2 separate regions of the Homo sapiens genome follow, and region 2 is linked to region 1. Evidence: fine-mapped expression QTL. A gene starts in region 1. The other region holds a variant in brackets. All regions are shown on one strand. Distances are from middle to middle.

What was found. PIP is the estimated chance that this variant, and not a neighbour inherited with it, causes the effect.
Region 2: its variant is fine-mapped to the expression of FASLG in whole blood (TOPMed, PIP above 0.99). The same link has a PIP of 0.9 or more in blood mononuclear cells.

The regions. Positions count from the first base shown.
Region 1 is chr1:172,650,171-172,666,236 of GRCh38, forward strand. It overlaps FASLG (Fas ligand), which reads left to right and starts at 8,933. Exons shown (of 4, transcript NM_000639.3): 1 at 8,933-9,379; 2 at 9,925-9,970; 3 at 14,164-14,220; 4 at 15,452-16,066. The coding sequence starts at 9,032. The coding sequence ends at 15,846.
Region 2 is chr1:172,695,207-172,711,272 of GRCh38, forward strand. No RefSeq gene overlaps it. Among named protein-coding and RNA genes, the nearest start is that of FASLG, 44 kb to the left of the region's middle. The variant C/A (reference allele first, on the strand shown) is at 8,976.

The sequences.
Region 1 (16,066 bases):
TTGGCCATCGACTTACTAAAGTACAATAAGCAATCTTTAATATCTTGCAGAATTTCCTGAGCCTATCAGATCTTGTGAGGTGGGAGTAGAAAAGGCCATATACATAAAGGATAATACAGGTTGAGCAGTCCTAATCCCAAAATCTCAAATCCAAAATGCTCCCAAATCCAAAACTTTCTGAGAGCCAATCTGATACAACAGGTGGAAAATTCCACATGTGATCTCACGTGGATCACAGTAAGAACAAAATCAAAATTTTGTTTCATGCGCAGAATTATTGAAAATATCCTATAATATTATCTTCAGCTATGTGTACAAGGTGCGTGCAAAATATAGATGAATTTTGTGTTAAGAATTGGGTCCCACCTCCAAGATATCTCATTATGTATGTGGAAATATTCTAAAATCTTAAAATTAAGTTCAAAATCCAAAACACTTCTGGTCCCAAGCATTTGAGATAAGGGATACTTAACTGCAGAAAGAGCAGACACCTTTTGGAGATGACAGGTGGAGGTGTGAGTGAATCCTGGTTACACTCGTCACCAGGGTTACTTTTCTTCTCTGAGTCCAATTACTCATCTATGAAAATAATATACATACTAATTTTTATGGGACCATAGTGCATATTATTAATGATGATTGTGATAAATAATAATTACAGCTAACAGTTGTAGAGCATTTACTATATGCTGGACACTCTTCTAAGTGCCTCACATGAATTAGTCATTTCATTAATCCCCACAATAATGTTAGAAGTAACAGAGATAAGGATTGTAGCAGGGCTGAGAAGATGACATACTAACATGGGTTTCTGACTCCATCCTCTGACAGACTCAATCCCCAGAAACAAGAATTGTCTTGATGGGCCTGAGAAACTGACATAGACCTGAGAAACTCTTGAGGGGAGAAGGGTGGTGCTTGGGTCTGGGTGTGCATGTGGGTAGATGCATACAACAGCTCAGAGTGGAAGAGTGTCAGATACCCTTGGTGCCAGAGCTATGGTTCTGCACATTTCTGTTTCCCACATTGCCATAATTAGTTACATAATCATAATTGCATAATCATTCTCATAACAAATTACACCAATAATTACATTATTACACTAATAATTTCATTAGTGTAATTAATTATAGAAAGAGAACATTCTGAAAGCTTCTGGAGAAAAATGGCAAATCACCTGAAAAGGAATGAGAGTTAGATTGACCACCAACTTCTCAATAACAGCCCTGGATACAAGAAGACAAAAAGTTATGTTTGCCATTTTTTGGGAAAAAAGTATGTCATATTTGGAAATGTATATTCAAGTAAACCATCATTTAAGTATGAAGACAAAGGAAACATAAAAATACAACACAATCCAGAATTTAAATTTTAGGTGCTATCGACATGGCACTCCACCAACATGATGGAGGTAGTGGCTGGGAATGGAGTGGTTATACTAAAGTGCTAATGCTGTTCAGAGAACTATATAGATATTTATAAATTTAAGAGATTGGTGGAAAAATAGACAAGAGCCCATTTTTTTGATAAATTAAAAGTAACCACCAGAAGAATAAAAATAAGAATATTCAAATTTTCTACCAGCAGAAAAACAATTTGGTCTAGCTAGTAAAAGGAAGGAAGAGGGCAGGAGGAACCTGATAAATAACCATGAAATAAGATGGTATTAATATATAAGCCCTAGTATAACCACAGTAGCAATTTTAGTATCAGGCAGAACAGAATCCAAGGTAAGGAAATATTCTAAGGCTAAAAATTGGGCAAAATACACTCATAGGAGTGAAAGTAAAATAATTAGGAACATATATGTATCTAACAAGATAGCTCAAAACAAGGGATCAAATGACAAATATATAAAGAAATAAATATATTATTAATTGCACTTGGAAATTTTAATATATTCATTTTAGAGACTGAAATGTCAAGCAAAGATACAGCACACTTGAATGATATAATTAAAAAGCCTCAACTGATATATATATGTAAATTATACCAAATACATGGATTTATAGCAAATTGAAAATAGATTTTTTTTCAAATAAGAGACACTCTCACAAAAATAGAGTATTAGCTGCAAGAAAAGTCTCAATAAGTTTCAAATGGTCAACATTATACAGACTACATTTTGCTCTCTCTCCTGAGAACTTAACCTGTATGGACCATGTCAGTGGGTTTCCTTGCTGTCTGGACTTCAGTAGAGTTTGCCCAATGTGGAGTACCAGCAGAAGAGAAGGAGGTGGTGGAACAGGGTACTGATTGTGGCTCCTCCTTGTGTGGTCACCTTAGACAGGCTGGCAATTCTTAACTGGAAGTCAACAACCCTGGTCCTACAAGCTCTAGAGCATCATAGGATCCCTTTTGGTTTCCCACCTTTGTGTTTGTAAACAATCCCTTTTATTAAGTCCTTCTTAAGTTATTCTAATTTGAGTGTTTCAGCTGTTTGCAGATGAGATCCTATTGATACAATAGGGAAATTCTCTTAGTGACAGAGGCAACAGACAAAAATCCAAATACCTTTGGAAAATATACTCACACTTATTATGAGAAACTTTAGATGCAGACTCTTCAAGAGTAGGATGAAGACAAACAGGTCCAAAATCACGGGTACTGTTCTAAAGAGTTCTTGAGGTCTGGGACAATATGAAAAGAAAAAGAATGAGGTATAAGGATTGAAAAAAAGATAAAAAATGGTCACCTTTTCCACTGATAATATAGATCTCTATTAAAAAACAGAATCAACAGACACACTATCAAAAGTAAAAAGAGAGATCCACAAGTTTGCAAGAATCAATATTATTTATTACAAAATAAAGAGTATTTATCTAAACCAACAATAACCGTCTGTTATTAGGTGTCTATTGCTGCATAAAAATTTACCCCAAAGCATAATGATTTGAAATAAAAAATATTTATTATCTCACAATTTCTGTGGGTCAGGAATCCAAGCTTGGTTTTGCTGGGTGACTTGGGCTAACCTATGAGAGAGGTTGGGCTGCAATCATCTCCAGGCTCAACTGGAGCAGAATCCACTCATGTGACTCACTCACGTTGCTGTTGGAGGCTTCAGGTCCTTGCTGGATGTTCGCCAGAAAAATTACTTCTTTGCGACATGGGCCTCTCTATTGGTCTACGCACAATCTGGAAGTTTGCTTCCCCTAGAATAGGGGAGGGGAGGAAGAGATGAAAACTGTAGTTCTTTTTGCAGTTTAATCTTAGAGGAGAAATCCCATCATTTCTGCTGTATTCTATTAGCTAGAATTGAGTCAGTTAAGTCTAGGCCACTCTCAAGGAGAGGGTATAATAGAAGTGCATAAATACCAGGAAGTGGGCAATTATTGGCATCATCTTAGAGACTACCTACCACAGCATCTGAAAATACCACAGAAAATAAGACCCCATTTGTAACCACAACAAAATTACAAAGCATCAAGCAATTCATCTAAGAAAGGGTGTATGAGACTACTCTGGAGAAAAATTTTAAAGGTCATAAAAATATGAAAAACTGTTACGGATAGGGTAAAAATAACAGTTCCTCCAAATTATTGCAATTACATTTAATGGTTCAGTAGGATGTTTTAGGAACATGATAGTTTTTTCATATACATATACATATATACACATATATATTTTTCCATATATATTTCATATATATACATATACATATGAAAAAATGAAATTAAATATGCCCAAAGTTGAGTCGATTTTAAAAAGAGAAAAACAAAAAGGAGGGGATTTTGCCATACCATCTCTCAAGACATTCCACAAAGCTGCAATTACAGAAACAATGTGACCCTGGTATCAGAATAGATAAACAGATCAATGAAATAGAAATAAGAGTTCAGAAAAAGACTCGACTATATGTGGAAACTTGATATGTGATAAATATGCCAATTCAGTGGAAGAAAAGATGGGATGTGTGGAAAAATTAGATCATACATGGAGAAAAATAGACTCCTGTCTCATCTCACAAAGGTGGACTCCAGATGGATTAAAGTCTAAATACAAAACCTGTGCAACTATGGATTATATCTATAATATTAAGTACAAGGAGATCCTGCAAATCAGCACAAAAAAAGGTAAGAAACCCAGTTTAAAAATGGGCATGGCATGTGAACAGGAAATATATACAAAAAGGAAAACTTGAATGCCAACAAGCATATGATCAGATGTTTAACCTCACAAGAGATCAGAAAAAGGAAGATCAATAGACAATGATATATAACTTTATAGTCATAATGCTTGGCAAAAATTAAAAGATGGATAATACCAAGTAGAGCTGAGGACATGGGATAAAATAGTTCTTCATAATTGGTGGTGGTGTCAAGGCATTCAGCCACTCAGATGAGCATCCAGAAATCACTTAGTGAAATTAAATATATAGGTGCATGTCTGTGAATAAACAAGTTTCAGCCAGGAGTGTACTGGGGTCTTTGCTCACCTCTGGGGAAAATCAGATTTGGTTTTCTTACTAACTTGGCAGATGCCCTTGGAAGTCTCCTCTAGGTTTGTGAAGGTTCATAGCAGCTACTTTCCTTATGCATCACTCTCTGCGACTGCTGAGTCACCTCTGGAGCTCTGAGTTACAATCCACTGAGTCCACTTCCCTGGTAGAACACTGGATGGAAGAAAGAAATAGGAACTTTGTTCTCTTTATGCCCCTGTCCTTTTAACCTCCATGTGACTAACATCCTAGGTGTAGCAGCATACTTAAATCCTTTTTCTAGATGGTTAAGACAATTTCTGAAGGAAATTACAATGCCGGAGGGACCACAATTGAAGATAACTTGAATTTTCATCTAATGAGAAGATACTTTAAAAAATCATAACAACTAGTATAAGGTGGTTTCTCCTATTTTGTCCTCCATATAAATTTGCTCCCAAGTGTCACCCAGGTCCCTTTGAATCTCTATGGCTCGTAAGCCCCCCCCTCCTCCTCAAAGAGATTGTCAGCTCTGAATATTTCTCCTTTGTCTATCCTCAAGGAACCTCTGGTTCCAGAATCAGAGATTCTGCAGGTGTAATTGGGGAGGGTAGAGCAAGACTTAGCAAAGCTCTTCCATTTAAATTCCCAGCCTGTGGGAGCCACCAGCCTTTGATTTATTTATTAAGTTCATCTCTCAAAGGCAAATATTATTTTCTTTAGCATTCACAGAACTAAGATCTACTTGTAACAATTATTTCTCCTTATTAATAAGGTTTGGAAATACCCCAAAACATAATGGGTCCCTGTTATTGTACATAGGGTTGTTTTATTTTTCCATGACTTTGCCAACCTGTGATGTTTGGTGGCATTACTGAAGATCAATATGAGTGTTTAAAGATGCTCTCTTTGACTCTATTTCAGTTCAGATTCTCTCTATGCCTGGAGGATAGCAGGAGAGTTGGGGGCAGGTATGGTCTTCTAATTTCTTCTGTTGCAGAATGAATCAACAGAAGCAGCAGGGAAGAAGGAGATGTAAAAATACAGCATAATTCTTATTGGACAGTGCTGGAAGTTCCTGTGGGAGTTTGAGATAGAAAAATCGAGAGGTACTAGTCTGAAATGGAGAGGCTCATCAGTTCAGGGTAGGATCTCAGAGAGATACTGGATGTCAAACGTGGACTTTGCACTTTCCCCTGCAACCTCTCTCCCTCTCTCCACTTTGTTTGTCCTTAATGGAAGAAGGTCGATTATATTAAGTCTACAGATGAATTATTTGGGGAAAGATTCACTAAATTTACAACATCTTTTGAGTGCCTACCTTGGTGCTAGGGACTATTCTAAGTGTATCAAATGCTTTGACTCATTTAATCCTCCCAACCCCCGTAAAGCAAGTACTATTATGATCATGCTTATTTTTATAAATGAGAAAACTGTGGCACCGAGGAGGGAAGGTGACCTGTCCAGTTCACACAGTTAATGAGCAGAAGAGCTGGGATTGGAAGTCACATAGTTTAACTCCAGAACCACCCACTCCCAACCATCATGCAACACCACCTCCCCATCCAGGATATGGTGTATTTTTCCCACTTATTTGAATCTTTGACATTTTCAGTAGAATTTTTATAATTTAAAAGATATGGGCCATGCACGGTGGCTCACGCCTGTAATCCCAGCACTTTGGGAGGCTGAGGCGGGCAGATCACGAGGTCAAGAGATCGAGACCATCCTGGCCAACATGGTGAAACCCCATCTCTACTAAAAATACAAAAATTAGCTGTGTGTGGTGGCATGTGCCTGTAGTCCCAGCTACTCGGGAGGCTAAGGCAGGAGAATCACTTGAACCCAGGAGGCAGATGTTGCAGTGAGCTGAGATCACGCCATTGCGTGCCAGCCTGGCGACAGAGTAAGACTCAATCTCAAAAAAATAAAAAATACATATATATGGTTCTGGACAATTTTTCTTACAGTTATTTTGGGATTTTCAAATAGTTTTTTTGTTGTCTATATGGTAGAATTCTTAAAATTACAATTTCTGATTATGAAATTTAAAGTTAGTTGAATTCATAACGATGAATAAAGTCACATGTGAGTTCAAAAGCTCGTTAACTCGTGCACTGTCTTGCTAGTCTCATCCCTTGCACTGTTTAAGAGTGGAGAGTGGGATGTGAGCAGGAGTGCCTGGTAAGGAGGCAGTAGGAGCTGACGCTAAAGAGCCTTGGGTAACGGTAAGAAGCTTGCCTTGCTCCTGAATCAAACCTTCCAACAGAAGGCAGGGAAGTGAGATCATTAGGTTTGTTTTTTAAAAAGCATTTTTCTTATAGCATTTTACTGGGTGATTTGGGCTTGGGAAAGGTCGGTGGCAGGGCACCTGTTAGGGCATTATTGCAGTATTTCAAGTGAGAGATAAAGTCTGACCCCAGGCAACAGCAGTAAGAAAAATGGGAGTAGCGAGGATGGGGCAGGGGGGCAGTACACTGAGGGGAGGGTAAGGAACAGGTCTCAGGTAAAAGCGACAGTCCTGGGTGACCAGTTAAACGTTGGGGGAGAGGAAAAGAAAGGAGATGAAGTTGCCACCAGAAAGAGTGGCCTCAGGAGAAAGGGGTTGTACAGGGTTGGGGATGGGGTGGGATGGGCAGAATGTATCAGAGAAATAGTACCCTTGGGGTTGGTGTGGTACAGGTGAGTGGGCCTGAATGATAGTAATGGAAATCCCAAAGCATGATATAAAAACTAACGAAATTTGAAAAGTAATAAACATGAAAAAAATGAAAAATTTTGATTTATGGGGGATTTATTTGGCTTCTATTGGAGAATGATTAGGACTGAAGCTAACTACTTGGAAGTTATTGGCATATAAATGGTATGTGAGGCCAGAGGAAATGGTGAGATGAGCCCAAGTAGAGAGGCCAGCTTTAAACAACAACAACAACTACCAAAAAAAAAAAAAAAAAAAAAAAAGCAAAACAAAGAAATAGGACACAGAGTTAGATTTGAATGTCAGATATATGATGAATAATTGTTTAGTATATTCCATGTTTGGACATGTTTAAGACCTACTTGTCCTAAAAATAATGTATTATTTATCTGAAATTCAAATTTAACTGGGCACCATGTATTTCATCTGGCAACCATAACAGGGGCAGCACACAGAAATGTTGGCAGGGACCAGGCAGGCCTTTCAGATAGTGAGGTGGTGTGTGAGACACAGGCCAGTGGTGGAGGCTGGGTGACCCAGAACTCCTGTCTCTCATTCTCAGGGGCAGCTGCTACATACTTCCCACTGATTGGGTTTGCAGAGATGGCCTCGAGGGTGTCTGATATTCTGATATTTCAAAACAGAATAGAAATATGTATTTTAATGTGTATTTAATATATATATTTTAAAATATTTTTAATGTTGATATTAAAAGTGGTCAGTTGGGCTCAGTGCAGTGGCTCATGCCTGTAATTCCAGCACTTTGGGAAACTGAGGCAGGAGGATGTCTTGAAGCTAGGAGTTTGAGACAAGCCTGGGCAACATAGCAAGTCCCCATCTGTACAAAAAAAAAAAAGAATAAATTAGTCAGGTGTAGTGACTTATGCCTATAATCCCAGCTACTCAGGAGGCCAAGGCAAGAGGATTGCTTGAGCCCAGGAGTTTGAGGCTGCAGTTAACTACGATAGCACCACTGCACTCCAGCCTGGGTGACAGAGTGAGACTCTGTCTCTATTTAAATAAATAAGTAAATAAATAAACTGGGCAAACAATGAAAATGAAAACATTGCGAAATACAAAGCAGCTCTGTGGGTTCCACTGGTTTGCAGCCTCTGATCTAATTTCTAAAGTGGGTGTAGCAGGTTTTTAACCTGTAAATTATGGTGATCGGCAGGTCAGGGTAAATGGTAGTTGTGTGTGGGGAAGAGATGATGGCAACAGATGTTTTCCTCCTGCAAAAACTAAAATGTGGGAGTGACTTCTCTGGCCATGACTCCATGGTCTCTCCCCTCAGAGCCATTTTCAGTAAAATTTTTATAGTTTAAAAAATACGGTTCTGAACAATTTTTGTTAGAGTTATTTTGGGATTTTTAAATAGTTTTTTGGTTGTGTATATGGTAGAATTCTTAAAATTATACAATTATAATGTATAAAAAAGCATGCAATTATAATTCATAAAATTATAGCCCCACTGACCATTCTCCTGTAGCTGGGAGCAGTTCACACTAACAGGGCTATACCCCCATGCTGACCTGCTCTGCAGGATCCCAGGAAGGTGAGCATAGCCTACTAACCTGTTTGGGTAGCACAGCGACAGCAACTGAGGCCTTGAAGGCTGTTATCAGAAAATTGTGGGCGGAAACTTCCAGGGGTTTGCTCTGAGCTTCTTGAGGCTTCTCAGCTTCAGCTGCAAAGTGAGTGGGTGTTTCTTTGAGAAGCAGAATCAGAGAGAGAGAGATAGAGAAAGAGAAAGACAGAGGTGTTTCCCTTAGCTATGGAAACTCTATAAGAGAGATCCAGCTTGCCTCCTCTTGAGCAGTCAGCAACAGGGTCCCGTCCTTGACACCTCAGCCTCTACAGGACTGAGAAGAAGTAAAACCGTTTGCTGGGGCTGGCCTGACTCACCAGCTGCCATGCAGCAGCCCTTCAATTACCCATATCCCCAGATCTACTGGGTGGACAGCAGTGCCAGCTCTCCCTGGGCCCCTCCAGGCACAGTTCTTCCCTGTCCAACCTCTGTGCCCAGAAGGCCTGGTCAAAGGAGGCCACCACCACCACCGCCACCGCCACCACTACCACCTCCGCCGCCGCCGCCACCACTGCCTCCACTACCGCTGCCACCCCTGAAGAAGAGAGGGAACCACAGCACAGGCCTGTGTCTCCTTGTGATGTTTTTCATGGTTCTGGTTGCCTTGGTAGGATTGGGCCTGGGGATGTTTCAGCTCTTCCACCTACAGAAGGAGCTGGCAGAACTCCGAGAGGTAAGCCTGCCGGCAGACTGCTGTGCCCTGGAGGCACCAGGCATAAGGGGATGGAGGGCCCACTGCCTGGCTTGCAAAGTGCTTTTCAATCCTTTTTTTTTTTTTCTTAGAAATGGGTTGTTCTAGTTATTCTATTCTATAGACAGAGAAATGGAGGCTCATAGGGGTGAAGGGAATATTTTTTACTTTGTAAAGAATCAGAGCCCAACAGTTTGTCTTTCCTCAGTTGTCAACTCAGTCTGTTGAACCACTTACTGCCTCATACCTATTGATTTAAGGAGTAAAAAACAAACAAACAAAACTTTTAAGTTTTGCTTGGAAGTAAATTTGTTCAGATGACCAAACTAAATCTTGAAAATTGGTACGATTCCAAATCACAAAACTGAGGGACAGTGAGGCAAAATTGCTTGGCCAAAGCCCAAGTTAGCAGAACTTCTGAGGTATTTGGATTCTCTTTCCAGGGCTTGGTTTATTTGACGATTCTGCCTCTTTTGCTTAAAGAATTTTATTTTTATTATACATCTTTTCTCTTTCTGTTTTACTAGTCTACCAGCCAGATGCACACAGCATCATCTTTGGAGAAGCAAATAGGTGAGTCTTTTTTCGCATGTACATTGAGTTCCCAAAGATGATCCTCAGCACAGAACTATGTTAATGGAATGCCTTAAATTCTGTCCCACACTTTGGTTTCTGTACACTATAAGAGGAATTCTGGCTAATTCAGAATCTCTGGTCTATGATTCCTTGAGCTGCTTTAAAAATGTGAAGTGAATTGAATTGCTCACAATCAATATAGCTGAGCACTGCACACAATTCAAAATCACTTCCACTTGACTTTGGAAAGAGACACACATATACAACCCTGGACCTTTGCCCCCTGAGAAGTGGCTCCAGGCCTGTCCCCTTCCACAGACATCCTGGTCCTGGCACACACGCCAGTGGCTGTAACTCCTGGGAAGAGAAGGCGAAATGAAGGCAGAGACAGATGTTTCTGAGAAACGTCCTTTCCTCTTTTAAATGCCCTAAAGAGATTACATTGAAGCTTTATTTACAATATGTTTTATAGGATGTAAGCTTTTAAAACATGGATAATCAATTCCCCACATTAGAATGGTTTTTCTTGAAGTCACTGAGAAGCTTAAGGGAAGACTTCAGCCATCATTCAAAGGATGTTCAGCTTCACCCACAGAGGCAGTCATGAGGTACCCTTGATCACAAAGGAAAATCCTTTGTATGGGAGCTAGGGCAAGAAGATGATAGGTTGAACACTGATCTCATGAAATTTCAGGGCATAGTTGTGCAAGCTCTGTACAGATAGATTTTACAGTGTGCTTCACTAGTCTAAGATTCATTGAAATTTTAGATTTAGATTTACAATGAGATTCATTGAATTTTTAGAGGTGGAAGGAAGCTTAGAATATATCTAGTCCAGCCATTTCATTTTTTGGAAGAGAAACAAAATACCAGATGGATTAGGTGAATATGCCCAAGACCACTGGTATGCCATTGGGGCTAGAAGGAACACAGGCTCTTGATGCCTTGTCACCTACAGGGCTTTCCAGTACTGGACTGGTGCCTCATGAAGGAGGGAAACTCCTGTCTCTCTGTAGTGAGCATGGAATAAGAAATAGATGAAAAGCAGGATACCTCTGCAAAGACTATAGGTAGATCTCATCCTTAGAAACTCAGAATAAAGAAGAAGGCAGCACTGGCCATCTATTAAGTGAAGCAAGTTCCAGTTTCTCCGGATGTGGCTACTGCACATGACCCAGTCGCCTGTCTACTATCCTAGACTGTTAAGTTCTTATATGAGCCACTGTTGGGATGCTCTGGCCCCTGCTTCTGTGTCCTAATCCTTAAATGTTAGAAAGTCCATATGTACACAAGCAGAGTGGAAATATTTGATAGAAAAGTAAAGCCTCTGGAGGACGTCTGAAATAAGATCATTTTGAAAATCTGTGGAATGTGCCTGGTCTGATAGGTATCTAATTATTCATCTTTCACCCACTCTCTGGAGTCAATTTAGTGATTAAAAGTCAAATGATCAGGTGAGTCAGATCCATCTACCCCAGTAAGCAATTATGTTCTCTAGATCAACCCAAATAAACCAGAAATTGGTAAATCATCACATGGAAATCAAATCAGTAACTTTACTAATAAGAAAAGAGATGCAAATTAAAAATAGGGAATACCAATTTTCATCAAATTAATAAAGATTAAAAAAAAACCCAGACTGACAAAGATTTGAGAGAAAAGTGCCTGTGCAAACATTAGTTTCAGCCAGTATACATGTAAATTGCTATAACTTTTTTTGAAGAGCGCTTTAGAAATACATAGCAAAAGCTTGTAACTAGTAGTTTACGTTGTAATCCTATCGCTAAGAATTTATCTTAAGAAAATAATCAGAGATGTGCCCGAAGATTTATATATAAGGATGTTCATTACTTCCTTATGAGCCTATTTATAATAAATAATTCAGAAGAAACTTGAATGCCTCATACGAGATTAGTTATATACATTATGGTGTATTCAGACAAGCACATAATAAGCAGCAACTAAAAGTGATGTATCAGAAGGACATTTAATGCTTTGGGGATTGTGCACTCTGTATTGTTAGATAAAAAGACAAGTTACAAAAGGGTATGTTTAGTTTCATACTGACTATGTAACCATGTATGCACATTTTTATATTCTTAGGAACTGGAAAGTTTTACACACTGACATACTAACAGTGATTTTCTCTGGGAGATACTATTATAGATTATTTATACTTTCTAATTTGCTCCTTTTTACATTTTCCATTTTTTTCCGGTTAACTAATTAAATCTTTTATTCATTCACATGTGTGAGGCTAGATGTTGGGTGTTGGATGCTGATTGAGGATGAGCCAGCCCAGGGGGCCTGTCCTTATGGAGCTTTTAGCAGGGGGAAGAAGCTAAACAAAAGCAAGCAAACAGACCATGCAATTCCAAAGTTGTACTAAGTACAACCTGAGAATCTTCTTTAAGGAGGTGTTGTTTACGCTAACACCTTGGGGGTCAGAAGCCCGATGAGTGAACGGCTGTGTGCATGTGCTGTGGAGTGGGGTGGGGCTGGGGGCGGGCATTTCAGCGCTGGGAACGGCACATGCAAAAACCCTGGGGCAGGAAGCACTCATAACCAGTGTCTAGGATATCCTTGCAATTTATTTATTCCAGTATAGGTACAGCAGATATTCTTAGTGAGCATGTTCTGTAAGAATAACGTTGTACTAGGCTCTGTGAGGGATATAAAGACATGCAACATGTGGTTCTCTGTTCCGTTTCCTGCCGGTGCGTGGCTGAGTGCCAGATTAGTTGCTCGGGTGGTTTGCGGTGTAGGAATGCAGAGGAGACTCAGTTTTGCCTTTCCTGTTCGCTAACACCTCCTACATGGTGGGTTGTCTTGGATGACTAGAGAGGTCATGATTGCTCAGCTAATGTTCTCTGTGGATTGGGCCATTCTCATACCATATGTGAGTTTTACAGGCTAATCACGAACCTGACATAGACAAGCATCTCCTGTGAATATTTATTGAAGTCTCAGTTAGCTGAATTCATTAGCTAAGTGGCAGCTGTCTATCTTGTCTGAAACAGTTGAAGTCAGAGAAATAGTGTCTGTTTTGAGAACTATTGTCTATCCTTCCATTTAATTTGTCCAACATTTGCTAGTAACATGCCCTGTGTTAGAAACTGGGCTTCTCTGGTGAACTCAACGTATCGTAAGGAACTTGTCGTTATTTGAGGGGAATAAGATAATTTATGTAGTTACCCCAGAGACAAGAGGAGTCAGAAATGACAAGAGAGGGGAAGACAGAGGGATCCTAGATTTCAAAAGAGGGGCAGATCATATTTGATCAAAAAAGGCTTGAGAGGGTTTCCCAAAGAAAGCGGTAATAGGTAGTCCTTATGGGATGTTTAGGAATTTGACACAGAAATCTGCTTGAAAGAACATTACGGGCAGAAGACATGGCATGAACAAAGGCACAGAGGAAGGAAAGTGGGGGTATGTGTAGGCCACAGAACTCCCGTTGTGTGGCAATGCTCAGTGGGAGTAAGGAGATAAGGCTGGACAGATGGGCTGGGATTGTGTGATGGGGATACTTGTATACGACGGCATCTTCGGGGAGGAGCAATTAAAGGTGTTTGAGGACTCAGTGATATGAGGTGATTGTCAGAGGTCTTAAGATAATTAATTTGGGGCAGATTGTAAAATGTCACTGGGGGAAGATCTGGTGACACGCAGACAGATCAGTAGTCTTCTTCAGCCTCTGTCCTGTAAGTCTTTGGAACAAGAGAATCAGAGTGGACAGAGCCCTGGAATTGGCGTCAGGAGAGCAGGGTGTGGTCCCATCTGTGATGCTGACTAGCTGGGTCTTCTTGGATTAGTCACCCAACTTCTAAGCTCATTTTGCAATCGATAAGGTGGGACAATAATACCTACCTCAAAGGGTTGTGGTGAGTTCTAAATGCAATAACTGACATGACAGCTCTTTATGAATAAATGTTTATATTAATTATGTTTTATTGTAACATTATAATTTATACATATGTCAATCTTAATTTGGTTTATTTTTTTACCTCTTTGTTTCTGAAATATAGACTACTATGAATCCTGCAGTTCAGACCTACATGATTAGTATATGTTAGACTGTTGCCATTTACGGTTTTAAAATCTTTTTTTTAAAATGATTGGATTTAAATTCCCACCAAAATAATAGTTGCTATTTCATTTTAACATATATTTTTCCTCTCTCTATGATACAGGCCACCCCAGTCCACCCCCTGAAAAAAAGGAGCTGAGGAAAGTGGCCCATTTAACAGGTCTGTATCTGGAAGGTACAGGTGAGATTTGGGAAAGCTTTTGGCAAAAGGCAAAATGGCTGCCTGGTTTCCATTACCAGGCTCTAGAGAGTTGTTACTTCCTGGAGACAGTATTTGAACCCAATAATACTAACACTTTTCTTGTCGAGTCAGTCTTATGAACACACTTTGATCCCCTATTCTCTGGGCAAGGCCCTCTTCTAAATTGGAGACCTGGAGCTGATTATGACATGACCCCTGCCCATAAGAAGCTCATTCTTTTCAGTCATTCCAAAGTCCCTTGGGGGATTGGGGGCACAGATCCAAGAGGTGAGAGATGAGAAGGTGAGGAATGAGGACTTATTTTAGTCAGTGCTTTCTTGGTTTTCTGGAAGAGCTTCACTCTGCTTTGTCCAAGAGTATAAATAGGAGTGAGAAGGGAGACTCAATCCTGGCACTTGTAGAGTTTCAATATGTGCCTGTAAAGTGGAGTGAAATGATATGGTATGGGCACTCCCATTATAAACTACATAAATAATGGAATAAATATCACAGAAAGTGGTAGGCTATTGTCCCTGGAATTATTTAGGCAGAAATTATAGAATGATCCGGTCACATCAGCAGACACTTACTGAATACCTGCTGTGTGCCAATTTGGGGATGTGAAGATGAGTAGCACATGGCTCTTGCCCCCAGGGAGCTTGACATCTAATAGGGAAAGACAGGCACTTATGATAATTTCAGTACTTCAGAGATTTAGGTTATGTTCATGATGTTGTGGGGATACAAAGAAAAGGGAACTGTACCCCAAATTGAGGGGCTGAATAATTCTTACTGCAGGTGAGAAGATGGACCAGATGGTCCCTAAGATCCTTCCCAACTTTAGAACTTTAGAGTTCCTTGGATTTGGCTTTTTCCTTCAGGAAAGGACTTCAAAGCCTAGCAGATTTGGTGCTAGTTCTGAAGATAGTAAAATCTTTGTTCCAGAGAGCAAATATTTTCTCAATAATTTCTTACTGCAATGGATTACGGGTATATACTATTGTTCCAATTGTGTGGATGACAAAATAGGACAACGTTGTTGAGGAAATTCTGTGATGGATCAAGTTCTGACCCCTCAGCCAGTTCTATACCAGCTGTCATTCTGGGTGAAACATTTGTTGAAGGAAGGGCCCACAGTTTTGCCTTAGAAACTTAGTTTGTTGGATGCATGACTATTCCTTGTTGAAAGCTCCTTTTGGATTTATTTCAGGCAAGTCCAACTCAAGGTCCATGCCTCTGGAATGGGAAGACACCTATGGAATTGTCCTGCTTTCTGGAGTGAAGTATAAGAAGGGTGGCCTTGTGATCAATGAAACTGGGCTGTACTTTGTATATTCCAAAGTATACTTCCGGGGTCAATCTTGCAACAACCTGCCCCTGAGCCACAAGGTCTACATGAGGAACTCTAAGTATCCCCAGGATCTGGTGATGATGGAGGGGAAGATGATGAGCTACTGCACTACTGGGCAGATGTGGGCCCGCAGCAGCTACCTGGGGGCAGTGTTCAATCTTACCAGTGCTGATCATTTATATGTCAACGTATCTGAGCTCTCTCTGGTCAATTTTGAGGAATCTCAGACGTTTTTCGGCTTATATAAGCTCTAAGAGAAGCACTTTGGGATTCTTTCCATTATGATTCTTTGTTACAGGCACCGAGAATGTTGTATTCAGTGAGGGTCTTCTTACATGCATTTGAGGTCAAGTAAGAAGACATGAACCAAGTGGACCTTGAGACCACAGGGTTCAAAATGTCTGTAGCTCCTCAACTCACCTAATGTTTATGAGCCAGACAAATGGAGGAATATGACGGAAGAACATAGAACTC
Region 2 (16,066 bases), 45 kb after region 1:
CCTTCAGCTTTTAGTATGTACTAGGTATAGGGTTGGGCAGGGGGCAAATATGAACATGACGGACTCCCTGACCTCAAGGATGATGCAGTAAAGTCAGGGAGAATGGTATGAATAGAGTCAGAATATAATGGCATCTTGCTAGAGCAGAGGAGTGTATAGAGTTCATGGGGGCTTTAGATAAAATTCAGTGAAGGCTTCTCAGAGGAAAGAGCTTTTAGTTAAGACATAAGAGACGAGGAAGAGATGGCAGATGTATTTTTATATAAAGGACTAGCATATGCAGACATTGAGGCATGACAGAGCATTAGTTGTTCAGACGAGCACAAATAAGTTTTTATTGTCTAAATGAAAAATGTAATGGTGATGGTACAGGGTGCAGAGAGTGTAGGGAAAAGATGGGAAAGGCCACAAAGAACCTTGTTAATCATGCAAAGGGGTTTTATATTATCAGCTAGTCCATAGGAATCAATGCAAGGGAGCAACACGGCAACATAATCAGATCTACATGTTGAAATAATCATTTAGGCAATATAAATCAGAGGCTTGTCATTAAAGACAGTGAGATCAGTAAGGAAGGCTCTTGTACTATGACTACTACCAATTCTGCCCATTGCTGTCACTTATAAACTCGTTCCTCTGCCAGGCACTTTACACATTTGTTTCATTTTGTCTTCATGCCAACCTTATTTTACAAATGAAGAAACTGAGGCTTAAAGAGGTTAATTCACTTGTCCAAATTAACATAGTGGAGAATAGCCAAATGAAAGTTAAACTCAAGTCAACAGACCAACAGGTTTCCAAAAGTTGGTATTCTTCTCAAATAATATTTGTTTCTAGTGTCAGTCCAGGAAAGGGATGCTTATGGCTAGAATTGGGGTAAGTGCAGCAGAGAAGATGAGAAACCAGACATGAGAAATGTTTAGGACTCAGTGACTAACTGAACATAGGGGCAAAGGGAGAGATAAAGCCTGAGTGAATGCCCAGATTCCAGGCAGGGCAGTTGGGCGGGTGATGAAGACATTCATCAAGAGATGTAAAATAGAAGAGGAGGAGGGTTTCTGGGGAAGATAATGAGTTCTGTTTTGGATCTCTAGTTTATGGTGCCACTCATAAGCTAAAGAATAGGGTGGTTGGAGGTCTGCATGAATTGTGGTGGAAGGATAAAAGGGCAAGGGGAGAGGAAGATTCTGGTAAAGGAGTTGTGTAATTTGTTCCCCAGACAACCGGACCCCTACAATCTTGACTGATGTGACAGGCCCCTGAATCTTCCCAGCATATTTTCCTACCCTCTGGAGTACACACATCCTACAAAGGTCTCCAAAATATTTGCCACATCTTGCTCATTGGCTGATTAACATGGTGTTATCTATAGAAGATACTAATATTATGTTCTTTGGAATGTTCAGACAGTCCAAGCCCCTTCAGACTATATTATGCCAGAGGAAGAGGATAATACAACCCTAGGGGAAGACCAAAAATGTAGACTATTGTCCCTTCCATATGAATGTGGGCTGCTTTTGATCTATTGTCTTGAAAGGATGTAAAGGAACTCATTGGCTAGGTCAATGGCACATGTAGCTGAGGCTGTGCTAATCTATTCTAACAAAGACATCACATCTGTCACAGCAAGTGCACTTAGAGCCAGTACAGATGGAGTTTGCAGCAGTCCATGGGCATCCTCCAGGATCCATAGAGTTTCTTTATGGGTTAGACTGGTAAATTAAATGGAAATATGATAAGGACTACCACCCCTGCCATTTCCCCTAGGATGCAAAATTGGTTTGGATTTATTGTGTTCACTGAGGGATGGTTGTGGTGGTGGTGGTGGAGTTTGCTTTTCCCCACTGTGACATACTATGTTGTGAATGAGCCTAGTTATTGGCCAGGTGGCCAGAAAGGGAGGTGGGAGTAAATTCTGACCTTTGAAAATATTGTTTTTCAAGACAGTGGCTGCTGTGTCATCTTCATGTAAAGGAGAAGTGTTAGCCTTTAATAGGGAAGAGTAGGATAGTTCTGCTCATCCAGAAAGGTCAAATGAATTTGGTGTTTCAAGGTTTTTGAGTATATTGACCCAAATGTCCTATTTCCAAGTCTCAAGGTACCATTGTTTTTCAACTAGGGTCCTTCTTCTGACAAAGCAGACTTGCCAAAGTTGAGGATTTAAATTTCCCTGGAGTCTACTAACCTGTCATTAAGACCTAGAACTGATCCTCAGAGTTTTTTTTTGCCTTCCAGCTTTAGGAAGTAAGAGTCTCTAGGATGCTGCCAAGGAGGCCTTCTGACTTTGCAATCATCATCTCTATTGACTGAATATTAGGCTGAGTTAAGTCTTGTGGTGGGCTGTCTTGGAGACAAACAGAGAATTAAATTTAAACCAGACCTTACCTAGTGGGTTGCCGACGCTCTTCCTCTCAGGCAGCCCTTCAGAGCAACTTCCTGTTCTCATGAGGAAGAAACCCGAGTGAATTTCTTTAGGCAGAAAAGACAAAAGAAAGACAGTGTCATTTCCTATGCTGAGATTATGACTGAGTATCATCCACTTAGGTCAAACCTTTAACAGAAAGGAGGAGTTTCTGATAAGCAGCTAATTAGGGGGAAGAATGAAGTGTTTAACGTTAGAAACAGTGAGTTTCAGTATGTAGTGAGGGCCATATCCAGTTTAGGAGTGAGTGCAGTTGGTTTGGTTCTGAGCACACTGAGTTTGAGGTCCAGGGGTACTTTAACAGGGAGGTGTTCTGTGAAATTGGTAGGACTGACACACAGGAGAGATGTCAGGGCCAGAGAGGCAATTGGGGAATTACCTGTATGTTTGAAGATTTGAGAGGTGATGGAGAAACATGTGGAGTGACAAGAGCAAAAAAGGTTGAGGATAGAGCCTTGGATTATACCTGATTGGTGAATGGAAAGAGGATGTAAAACCAATGAAAAAGAAAGATTAACACATGCCATAGAAAAATTGTGACAATATAGGCTCTTGCATGCCAAGGCAGATTAAATTTTGGAAGGAAAACATGGTGATGAGTGCCTACGGCTAATGAGAGATAGGAGCATGAGGGCTCTGATTTGGGGACCAGGAACCACTGGGAACATTGGAGACAATTGTTTCATTGAGGTGATGTGGACTGGAACTAAGTGCCTACATACAGGGAGTGATTCAGTGGTGACAAAACAGGGGAGATGAGGACAGATAACCTTTCAAAAAATATAGGCAGGAAATGAAAGAGAAAAAGAACTCCAGAGTTGATGTCAGAGTTTCATATGCCAGTGAAACAAACTTCAGAGCTCCTCACTACTCTGGGCCTGGAAGGCCGTGAATTTTGTGATGATACCATAAATGGTATTCATCAGCTTTTTAAAAATGTGCAATTTGTTATGATTTCTCTTCTTATTCTAAATAAATGCTCACATTGGTACCTAATTTTGTATTTGTAATTTGTAATATTCTTTTTTCTAAAAGATGCCACCAAAATTGTTTAAGTTTTAGGTTGCCTAAACCTGAATACTCTCTGGCAAGGATGTATGTTACAGATTCATCAGTAAGGGAATTTCTTCTCTCCTGTCCTCTCAGGCCCAAGAAAAGTTTTGGTAGAGATGAATTCCAACTCTACCAGTGAACATGCTAGCATGCTGGTCTTGACTAAGCAGATACAGCAGTTATATCACTCTGAAAGTTGAAAGGGTACTTTATTTTGGCTCCTTCCAGTTTAGGCCTTTCCTCCTTTCCTTTAACCTCCCATTAGCACAAATTGGTTGATCCAGAAGGTACTCTGGAAAATACCTTTGGAGTGGTATTTGGTGATCCTTCGGGTTCTTTGTCAACTTGAGGTTCTTTATTTGTTTCAAAGAGCAGGCCTTCAAGGTATCTGTGCCCAGATGGGGGAAGGTGGCAGGAAGGCAATGGTGACAAGGAAGAGTGACTAGTTCTGAGGGAGGATAAGGACAGGGGACAGCATAGGAGGTTTGGTCCAGATGAGGGGTCAGAGGTGAGGTAACTGGGTTTTCTGGGGTGGCCAAGAACACAGGCCAGGACTGATAGGATGAGGGAAGAGTTAAAGCTGTACCTGGGAGGATACATAAGAGAGAGAGAGCATGGAAGGTGAGGTAGTGTCAGGGGTGAGTGTGTCTGCCTCAGAGATGCCTCCGGAGAAATTCTCTCACAGGAAGCCTTGTCTGATCACTGACTCATTGTGTGGCCGGCTTTTCCTGTGCTTCAGTTTCCCCTCTGTAGATGAGAAGCACCGCAGAGGGCTACAGAAAGGAAAGTCTAAGAAAAACAGAACACAGCACTGGTAGTATAGAAATTCTTCTATGGTTCCTATGGTAATAATCCTTAGCTGAAGATAAAAAAAAAAAGTGAGCAAAATACATGTCCACTTTGTTAGATATATTGCAAATTGAGATCTTTATCTTCCAGGGGATTGTCACTAAAAGAGATAATTTTCTCAAGAAAACTCCAAGTTTCAGGGTCCTCAGTTTGCCATTGACATGCAGAAGTTGAATTAGGCACAATTTTTGTAGTAAGGAAAGAAATGGTAAACAAATATTAGGTCATTTATTCAAAATAACATGTACTGAGTGCTCACTATGTGCCAGTGTCCCCACTTTATAATAGTTGCTAAGACTTCAAAGCTGGAAAGGGTATATTTAGCCTTATACGAGTATGGCAGAGAGAAAGGAATTGCAGCTATTTACAGTTGCATGAGCTACAGGCTCTACTCCAGAGGCATGTGCCAGGTGCTCTGAGTGATCCCAAAAAAGAGCCCTGAACAGAGCGGACATAAGCCAGAGTTTCACAAAGACAAGTTTCACAAAGAAACTGACGTGTGGGCTGGGCTCTGGAAGTGTTAAATGAGAAGGGGCCGAGTAGCAAAATGAAGGGTGGGAGGACATGGGAGGAGGATTTTCCACTTTGGCAGGAAACCTCAAGTCAGACTATTTGAGTAACAATTCCTTAGAAACTGACAATATGTTGATACATCTTCATATGTCTTGGGAACATTTTCTAGACCCTTGTCCCCACTGGAGCCCCAACACACATTTCTATTTAACTCACTCCTTTGTCCAAAAGCATTCAGTAGCTTCACAATGATTATGAAAATGATCCAAACCCCTCTTCTGGAATATGATGCCCTGCCTGATTTTGACCCGTCTTGAGCAGCTCTTCTCTTCACCCACTTGATTTTTATCGCTCATTATGTGACTGGCTACTTCTCATTCTCCAGGTTTCCATGTAAATTTCCTCTCCCCGAAGAGGACTTGACTGACCTGCTTATCTAAGTAGGCTCCTCATACTCCATCCTGATTTTTCTATATTATTGTATACTATAAGTAAAATATTTGTTGGATAAATTGAATGTTGATTGAAATAATAGTAATACAGCATTTACTGAATTCTTACTATATGCAATTCAGTATACTATAAGACAACCATATTGTACCAACACTATGCTTACTTCTTTATAAACATTGCCTCATTTTGTTCTTACAATAAACTTGTGAAATAAGTACTAGTATTATTATTCCTATTGTACAGAAGAAGAAACTGAAACTTAAGAGAGGCCAAGCAAATTAGCCCAGGAAACACAGCTGGCGATAGAGTAACAGGCTTAGAAATCAGAAAATCTAACCTCAGAGTCTACCCTTTTAAACATATCTACTTAAATCATTTTAAATATTGCCTTTTGAATGTGTATGACAGCGCAAAATCTCAGCAAATGATTATCACGTTTATTTCAGATCAGCCTGTGTTCTATAAATTTGTAAGTGATCAGACTCATTAATCTAGATTTTTTTTACTACAGTTCATGTTATCATTCATGTAATCAATTGATATTTTGTCCTTTAGCAAAAGGAAAACATGAAGTTAGTTCACTCCTTTCTACTCTTCAAATTTTTCTTATCACATAATTGATGTAATACCTATGCGAGTGCATTCAGTAGAGAATTCCAAGGCAGTGCACCTCAACATGTATGAACATTTTGGTTTATAAGAATCATCTCTGGGTCTTATTAAAATGCAGTTTCTGGTTCAGTTGGCCTAGGATGGGACCTGAGATACTGCACTTCTAGTAAGTTCCAGTTGAGGCTAATACTGCTAGTTGGGGACCACACTTTGAGTAGCAAGGTTTTAAAGGATAAGAGTAATGTAGAGCCTGGGTTTTTCCTTCTTTCCCCACCAGGGGAAATAACATTCTACCAGCTGGCCATCTGAAGACAGACCTTGGTGGAGACTGAGGATGAGGATATGCAATTATACTAGAATTAAATCCCCAGGAGATTAGGGTCCTTTTCTGCATGTTCCCCATTCCTGGCACAGAGTCAGAGCTTAATAATTATTGAAGGAAGAGAATCTGTTCTTTCTTAGAAAAGTAAATAATAGTTCATAACAACATTCTGTCATGTATTCCCAGTCCTGTGGCTACAGTGGAATCCACATATCAAGGTAAATTCCTTTTTTGCACAGTAACTTGTATGAAGGGGATGGCAGGCAATGCTTACGTGGGAACACAGAGGGAAAATGGGGTCCTAAGCCTTATACTTTGATGAATAGTCAAGTCCCTTTTGGATTTGTCTTTTCTGAGTTAGGGGCATATGCAACAGGCTGCTCTCTATTGCTGTGGGATTGAGTGGGTTTCTGAACACACTGACTCATTCCTCCATACATGTGAAAGCACCATTCGAAGGACTTGAGACATATTGGTGAGCAAACATAGACCCCTATCCTCATGAAGCTTTTATTGCTGCTGGTGGAGACAGAAATAATAAATGAAACAAATAAGTATGTTACATGTTATACGGTGATAGGATTAAGAAAAAAAGAGAAGTAGAGCAAGATAGGGAAAGTATAAGAGTATGAGATAGAATGCGGTTGTAGTATTACATAGGAAGGCCAGAGTAGGTCTCGCTGAAAACGACATTTGAGTGAAGGCTTAAGAGGGGATGAGGGAATGATTCAGGTAGATTTCAGGGGCATGCGTGTTTCCAGGCAGAGGCAACAGCTGGTATAAAGAACCTAAGGAAGGAGAGTTGCTGGCATGTTCCAGGCAGCACAAGGAGGTCAGTTTGTCTGGAGTGGAGTGGGGGATGAGGAGAGTCATATGAAGTGAGGTCAGAGAATTAAGGAGGTAGGTGAAGGGTTATTCAGGCACGTCCTTACTGGGCACTGTAAGGGCTTTGGGTTTTACTCTGAGTGAGGTAGGGATCCTCTTTAGGGGAGTGATATGATCTGACTTATGCTTTAAGAGGGTCTGACTTCTGCGTTGTGAAGAGACTATGGATGGGCAACGGTAAAGGCAAGGAGACCAGGAAAGAGCTGTGGCAACAATCCAAGAGATAGGTGAGGGTGAAAAGGGCCAGGGTGGGAGCAGCAGAGGTAGTGAGAAGTGGTCAGATCCTGGAAATATTTTCAAGGCAAGAGGTGACAGGATTTACTGACTGATAGGATGTGGGTTGTGAGAGAGAAAGAGGTCAGGCATGCTGGGTGGGTTTGATGATACCCAGCTCAGACACACACAGGTTATTTTTGACCTGAGTGACTGGAGGGATGAAGTAACAATTAACCAAGATGAAGACAGGGAAGATCAGGAGTTCACGTGTGAGAGAGAAGAGGAAAAGTTCTGTTTTGGATAAGTTGAACCTAAAGGGACTTGTGTTTCCAACACTTTATATTTCAACACTTTATATTCAAAAATATAAAGTAGGCAGTTCTGGATATGATTCTAAAGTTCAAGAGAGAGGTTTGGGCTGGATGTAGAAATTTGAGAGTCATGGAATATAACACTATTGAAAGTCATGAGACTGGATAAGTGAATGTTGACAGAGAAAAACAGAGGAACAAGGACTGAGTCTTGGCATACACCAGGATAAAGAGATTAGAAAGAAGAGGAGAAACCAGTAAAGGAGAGGGAAAAGAAGTGACCCACAGGGTAGGAGGAAAACCAGAGTGTGGGCTCCTAGAAATCAGGTGGAGAAAGTGTATGAAGGAGTAGGGAATGGTCTACTATGTCAAATGATTTTTACAGATCAAGTATGACGAGTGCTCAGAAATGCTGAGAATTGAGCCAACAAAGTAGGGGTCATTGGTGACTTTGATAAGAGCAGGTTTGGTGTGACTTTGAGGACAAACATCTTATTTGAAGGAGTGTAAGAAAGAATAAGAGAAGAAAAACTGGAGAGAGCAGATACAGACTCACTTGAGGACTTTTATAGTAAAATATAGCATATTATTAAGGGGAAAAGAGCCAAACACATAAAGAAATTTGAAAGAGAAGTGGAAAAGAAATCAATTCAATTAGGCAAGATGAAGAATAAAGTGGAGGATGGAAATTAGAAATTTATTTATTAGCAGAAAACTAATACTTCTAAATATTTTTGAAGGTCCTTATTAGGAATGCTCAGCCCTGGGCTGGGTGTTGCACCCTTCAGTCTTTAAAGAGATTACAGTCAAGTTGGTAGGACAGGCCTTCTATGTAAATGTTTAGATGATCACAAAAAGATTAGAACCATGGCAGTTCTGGGCATGACAAATGTCAAGTAAACGTTCCAGATCAGCTCTGGTCTGAATTATAGGAGTCGGGGGATTCATTGTGGAACAAGATGGTAAAACCATTTCTAGAAAGGATGTGGGTCAAGAGCTGGACCTATATCCCTTGAGAGATAGGTGGGAATGACCCAGCAGACAGATGTGAACAAAAGCAATAAACAGTAATGCTCTTGGTGTGGGCAAGGCCCAGTAAATCACTCCTTCTGCCACTGTGCTGAGCAGATGTTTCATGAATAGGGGAAGAGTGGGAAAAACAACATATGAGGGCAATAAATCCTTTTAAGGTCTCCTTCTAGTCAATAGTTGTGACTTCCCAACTCAATGAACCTTTAGTTTTAAGTCACTAAGAAGAAACAAAACTAAGAAATTGTCCATTCTTTAAAGGCAGACACCCTCACCTCTTCCCCACTGTGGGTGGTACTTATAGAGATGG[C/A]ACACCCAGAGATGGGCAGAGAGAGGAAGAGGATGTGGCACACCACTCGGATAGAGAGGTCAGAGGGATCAACAGCCTGCTGTCTGCCAGGACTTTTAAGAAAATGCTCCTTGGTCTTTGGCTGTGTCTTATTGACTTAACCTGTATATAGAAGAAAGGAATTTTTGTAGGTCAGTCAAATGTATAAATGCCCTTATAAATTAATATATCAATGACATATTCAATACATACACCACTTTTCAACTTCTGTAGCTTTTATACCTTGTATGAAGAGAAGGAACATTGAAGGAGCTTGCTAGATTATCCAGCTCAGACCCACCCAGGCAATTCATAGGCAAAATACTTGTTTCCTCAGAGGGTTTGCAGGAATAAGCTGGTGTTGGGGGAAGGGGGAGGGAAGGAAAGGAAAATGAAAACAATGTGTAAAATAAAAATCACAAAGAGAAGGCCCTGGCTTTGTCTCCTTCCATTGTCACTTCCCCATCTCAATAGCACTCTCTTAGTGATTCCTTCCTGTCCCTGACTCTGGCTTCTTCCAAGTGCACTCCTAGTTCCCTTCCAGGCCTTCATGTCAGGAAACCAGCCTCTGCTTATCTGTGGTTAGGATGAGCCAGTTGTCAAAAAAAATTCTCTAGTTCCAGAGCTTTCATTCTCCTCATAAGTTACCTTTCTGAGCCCTCCTTCTACATAGCCAAATGTCTCTTTCCTCCTAGAACAAAAGAAGAGAAAACTGCTTTCCTATGAGCCCCCTCTTCTGAAGAGACATTTCCTGGCAGCGTGCTGTGGTCTTGTCTGGAGGTAGGCTTTAGTTGCTTGAGGTTTCAATAATTTTCATAACGAACAAGGGCTACAAGTAGGTAAGCCTTATTTACTTTTGGTAAGTAGACATTTGGGGGGATAGATGATTCATTTTGACATGTTCTGCTACAATTTTACCATAATTGCAAGAGATTATACAGGAAAATGAAAGCAGGGAGGAGCACTGGAGAAATCACCAAATAGACAAGCCCACTCCATCTTATAACATTATAGTTATAGCCATTGGACAGAGACAGAGGTTTTCTTTTAGCCATGCCACAATGTATACATATTTCAAATTATCATGTTGTACATGATAAACCCATTAGATTCCCAATTAAAAACCCAGTTAGAGTCCAAACAATATGTGCCATAGATAAAAGACACTCCCAGGAAGCTTGTAGTACTTTAATATGGTTGACGGTTGTTTAAACATTATTCCTTTTCAAGAAAAATACAATTCAAGTCATTTGCTTGTTTGTATATAGTGGTCAATAGTTATTACATTTGCTTGCTTGTATATAGCAACACATTTACTTGCTTGTATATAGTGGTAAATAGTTATTAAATATAGATAATAGTGAATATAAATGAAATAGGGTTTCCCTAGCTGAGCATATAGACATCTTATTTAATCACGCCATTGAATACTCATTGATCCAAATGTGAAGCATCTGTGTTATTCTCTGAGGCTGTTTTGTTCTCCTCTGTGTGGATCCAAATACTAGGGCCAATAAAAGGTCATTGCTGACATGGCCTGTGATGTCCCTTTGGAATAGAACAATGATGGTCCAGGTGGTGTACCTTTCATGAAGACAGATAGCCTGTATTGAGCATGGAAGAGCTTAGACAGTGGGATAGAACCCTTTTTAAGAACCCTTTTTTTTTAAGGTTTTATTTTTTTGATCTCATCGAAGATCAGCTCTGGTCATCTCAGAAGTACAGAGTGCTGTATTATGGTTCTTTTACTGATCTTCTGGAAGGAGAAGCAAAGTGCAACATACTGTGGGCCCCTACCTTAAATGGGAATGTTGGGTAGTTACTCCAGCTAGAAAACCACAAGGGCCAGGTGTATGTATTGGTCATGGAGACTTTGTTGTTTGTGTAACTAAGTACCCAAATTCAGTGTTGAAAATAAGGTCCCCAGATTTCTGAGCCTGCTTTTAAATATTTGATCAACATATTTCTCGAGAGAGACAGAGAGCAAACTTAGCTGTCTCATATGTACCTGAAAATGAACATTCCTTGAACTAAATTATGGCCCTCCTCCTCCTCCCTACCACCTGCCCCACCAACTTCCCTGCTCTGAATCTCAGTAAATGGCACTGTTCTCCACACATGAGGCCAGGGATCAGGGATCACTTCTGATTACGCTCTCTCCTTTACTCCTCTGTCCAACCCATTATCAAGTCTACCACCTCCATGCTTTCCATCCTGTAAGATTCTTTCCCATCCTTGTCCTTTCACTTGGTTTCCTGCTCTTCTGGCCCTACTCTTGACCTCCAGGAATCCATTCTTCACCTTGCTATTGGAGTATTCTTTTAAGATCACATATCACACATCTGGTTCTGCTGTTCACTTCTTTGCTTAAAACTCTTCCAGGGCTTCTCATTGAGGTGAGCCCCAATTTCTTAACTTGGCTCACCTACTGATGTGGCCCTCTGGCTACTTGTGCCACTACACTGACTCTTACCCCTCCAGCCTCAGTGGAAGCCTCCCAATTTCTGTTCCTGCCATCTTCTGTGTGGACCTGAATACTAGGGCCAATTAAAGTTCATGCGCTGAAATGTCCCTTCATGTGCTGTCCCTTTACCTGACCCTCCTTCCCCCAAGTCACACACTCTTTGTTTAAATAACTCCCACTTATTGTTCCAGGCTCAAATTAAATGCGACTTTCTTCAAGAAGGCCTTCTCTGGCTCCACCAGACCCTAAAAGTTCCCCTAGCTGTACATGTCCAGAGGCCCCTGTATTCTTCTTTGTAGTACTTTTGCACATTAGAAATTTCTTCATTATGTATATTTATGTATTTAATGTGTGTCTTCTCCACTTGACCATAAGGGCGAATTCCCTTCTATTCACTGCTGTGTACCTAGTGTCCAGTGTTGTGCCTGGCACATAAGGCACCCAAAAAACATTCTCTGACTAATGCTGACTCCCTGGATCAGGGTAATTTTGCCAGCAAGTAGCAGAATTCTCAGACTCAAATGTGCCTTTAATATAAGGTTTGCAATTCTTTCATGTGTCAGAAAGTTCAGAGATAGGGCAGGTTTCAAAGTGTTGATTTAGCAGCCCAAAGGGTTACAGCATTCTGCTTTCTACCATGCTGGCTTCTTCTTGGGTCAATTTCGGTGTGTGGTAATCAGAATACTTGCATAGAGTCTGCCTTGCTTCTCACCAAGGGTGAGTGGGAAGTGACTGTGGCCACGGATACATCAGAGGGAGCCAGGCTTAGGGTCTTCAGAAGTGACAAGACCCCATGGGTTGGCCACGGCACATCCTGCCTGCTGTTGCTGCTAATTCAGCAGTGGTTTCCAAGACCCCAAAGATTCCATGAAAACTAGCACTTAGGTAGTATGCTTTATTGAAGATCTCTTAAATAAAGTATTGACCATCACATTCACAGTTCAGTGCGGGCTTCTCTGGCAAAAGAACAAAAGACAGTGAAAGAAAATGAGGGTGAGAGCAAAACTGACCCTCAGATTGTCTTCATTTTCCAAGGATTCAAATTGAAACACTTGCAAGCAAAACCCTCTTTTCTAGGAGAGCCAGAAGTGGACTTATTTTGCCTTTTCTGAAAAGAAATGAAGGCTTCCTGAATGTTTGGCTTTCTTAGTGACTTCAAAAATGCCACCAAATTTTCATTTTGGAATCTTATGGAGATGTTTAGATTCTGAATATAAACAAGCAGTACTTAACATTTATTTTCTCTTTTAGATAATGGGCCTGAATTTATGTATACTGAGTTAAAACCTCATGCTCTAATTAAGAAGAGCCAGGATTCTCTTTTTCTATTTTCTAAATTCTGTGGGAACCCATAGTTAACCTTCAGACTCTTTGCTTTGACAAAACACTTAAATTTTTAAAAATTACACATGAGGAGCAGAGAGAGAGCGAACAGATCTCAACGATAAATAAAGCATGAATTGACTTTAGTGGCAAAAGCATGGCAAGTACTGTGGCTAGGGCTTAATTCCCGGTGAACGAAGAATACTCGGACATTGACAGATTCAAGTAAATGAAGACGCTCGGTTGGTGGCTTCTGAGAAAAATGTTTTCCTGGCCGGGGGTGTGGAAATCAGGTTCCAATGTGTCTGTAGGTACAGCTTATTCTCTCTGATGGTCTTTCTTTTTCTTTGTTTATAACTTGATAAGACTGCATTGTTGTTCTTTCTAACCTTTTATTTTATTGCTCTTAAAACAACTTAGTGATCTAAAGATACTGGGGAAATCTGTTCTCAAGTAAAACTTTTGTTTCCAAGTGGGATGTGGGAGGTGGAGGTCACCTTGGGTACTCCCTGCTCTGCGGATTTCTGAGTGAGAAGACACCTGCTTCAGTTGACACGCTGAAAACAAGCTAAACAGCTAGAGCTTTTTCTTTTGATCTCTCCCATGGTGTGGGATTTCCTCACCTCACATTTGCTGAGCATTGATTTCCACTGCAGATATAAGGTGTCTGAGTTTGTCACTGTTTCCCCACACTGTTTGTCAACTTTTACTTTTTGTTTAATCAGGCAGCCCCATGGGGGTGGAATATTATTCATTGTTCCAAGTAGTGCATAATCAGACAACCTGAGGATGTTTGCAGCCTTTGATGTATGAAATTGTGTCTCTCTCTGGGGACTCCTCAGCTGTAGATTTGATGGGTGTTTTCCATGTTCGCTTTGCAGGCTGAGCTGTCTACTCTTTATGAGGCTGGGAGATGAGGTGTTGGGGAGAAGAGATGAGAAAATTGCTTTTCTCTTTTTTGCTAACCTATGCATTTGTTTTTAAGATACTTGCAGAATACTGAAGAAGACAATCTAGCTTTGAAGTCTGTACTTATCCTTCTCCCCATACTTACACCAATTGATTCTGAAATGACCCAGTGGCTGGGACTGGCTGGTTGGGGGCAACTTCTTCTTTATCCTTTCTCTATGTCCCTCCAGAAGCTTCAGTCTCAACAGTAGGGACTGCATTTTATTAACAAACAAGTTCCATTCTGCTGTCAAGAGTATGTGAGTAATTTTCTCTTCAGGTTGAAGAACAAAATAAAATGATCAGAAAAAAGCTAACCAATTTCAATTAGTAGAGGACTATCCTTCTTTTACACATCCCACTCAAAACTTTAAGATCAAAATGATAGAGTAAAATTGCTTTATACAACCGAAAAACTAAATCCCGTCTCAAAGAGGTTAATAACTTTCATGACAGAACCTGATTTACAAAGCACATGGGCTCCTCTTGTTCATTTTCATGCCAGCAGCCACAGTAATGATTTAGAAAACATAAACTAGATTGTACAGCTCCCCAGCATTAACCCCTTCATAATTTTCTGTTACTCTAAGGATAACATCTAAACTCTTGACCATGGCCTGTCTGGCCTGTGTGGTCTGGCCCCTTTCTACCTCCCCATCCTCATCTCCACTATGCTCCAACTGCACTGGCCCCTTTGACTCCGGGAACCATCACACTCTAACCCCAGAGTCTTTGCACATGCTATTTCTTCTTCTTGAAATGCTTCTCTTTACTCATAAACTCCATATGTGGCTTGTTTGCTCTCGGGTGATCTCAGAAAGGCCTTCCGCAGTCATGCTAACAAGAGCCCTCCCCACTATTCTGTATTACTACACTCTGTTCAATTACCTCATGCATTTATCAATAACTTTTGATTATCAGTGTGCTTATTTCCTTGTGAATTGTCTGTCTCTCCTTATTGGACTACAAAGACTATGCCTGTCTTTTATTCTTCTCTTTTTTTCTCTGTTTTCATTTCTTTTTTTTTTTAAGGTGAGCAGGAGAACTAGAAGAAACAATTATATATAGGTTTATTTTAAAAGTTATGGTATAATTTACATAAAACAAAGAAGGAATATTTTAAATTTTCAGTAACCACCATTCGTAATAAGATACAGACTTTTCCCAACATCCTTGAAAGTTCCCTCATGCCCTTCTCCAGTTAATCCCTCACCAAAGGTAACCATTTTTGGACTTATGTCACTATACCTCAGTTTTTCCTATTCTTGGCTTCTTACTTTCATTATGTTGTAATGTCTTTAAGATTCACTCATGTTGTTGCATGTATCAGAAGTTCATATATTTTTATTGCTGAATAGTTTTCCATTGTAAGAATACACTAAAAATTGTTTCTCCATTCTCTGTTGATAACGTCTGGGTCATTTCCAGATTTTGTCTTTTATGGATAAATTTGTTATGACTATTCTTGTACAACAAGTATTTTATGGGCATATTATTCATTTTGGGGGGGCATTCACCTAGAAGTGGAATTGCTGACTCATGGGGTAGATGCATATTTAACCTTATGAAAAATGACCAAAAACATTTCCATGAGCGAGGGCTTAGCTTAATTAAAGTGATTGATTTGCAGTCAATTGATGTAGGATAGAGTCTTGCATGCAGTCCTTAAAGTTTATTACAGAAAATTTATTACAGAAATTAATACTTACCTTAGTAAGTAGAATATACTTTTATTCATTGAAATACAACTGATTTTTAATTTTAGGGCTTGTTTTATTCACTAAAATATTCCTTATTCTTTATTCTAGGGCTTCACACATGGTGGTTATTTATGATCTCTCTGTTGAATGATTTAATGCTCTTTTTAGCCTTCTGACTTCCTGAGAGGCATTGATCAATTATTCAAGGGTGGAATTTGTATTGAGAAATTATGACTCTAAGGTAAAACTTAAATCATCATTATGATAAACAGACAAATACAAGAAAAATACACAAGGTAAATTGTGAAATTAGGCCTCAGCCTCAGGATTGTTTTGTCCTTCCTTTCTTCCCTCCTTCCTTCCTCCTTTCCTTCCTTCCCTCCTTCCTTCCCTCCTTCCTTCCATCCGTCTTTCCTTCTATCCTTCTTTCCTTCCATCCTTCCTTCCTGTTTTCCTTTCTGTCTTTCTTATTTTTCTTCTTTCTTTATCTTTTTCTTTTTCCATGACCACTACTTCCTAAGCAGAAAATATTTTCTACCCTTTGGTACCATAAGTTGAGCCTTGTGTGGGTTTTGGTTATAATTTTTCTTCCCGAGAGAACAGAATAATTTGTAAGGAGGGCTAGTCATTGAGCACCC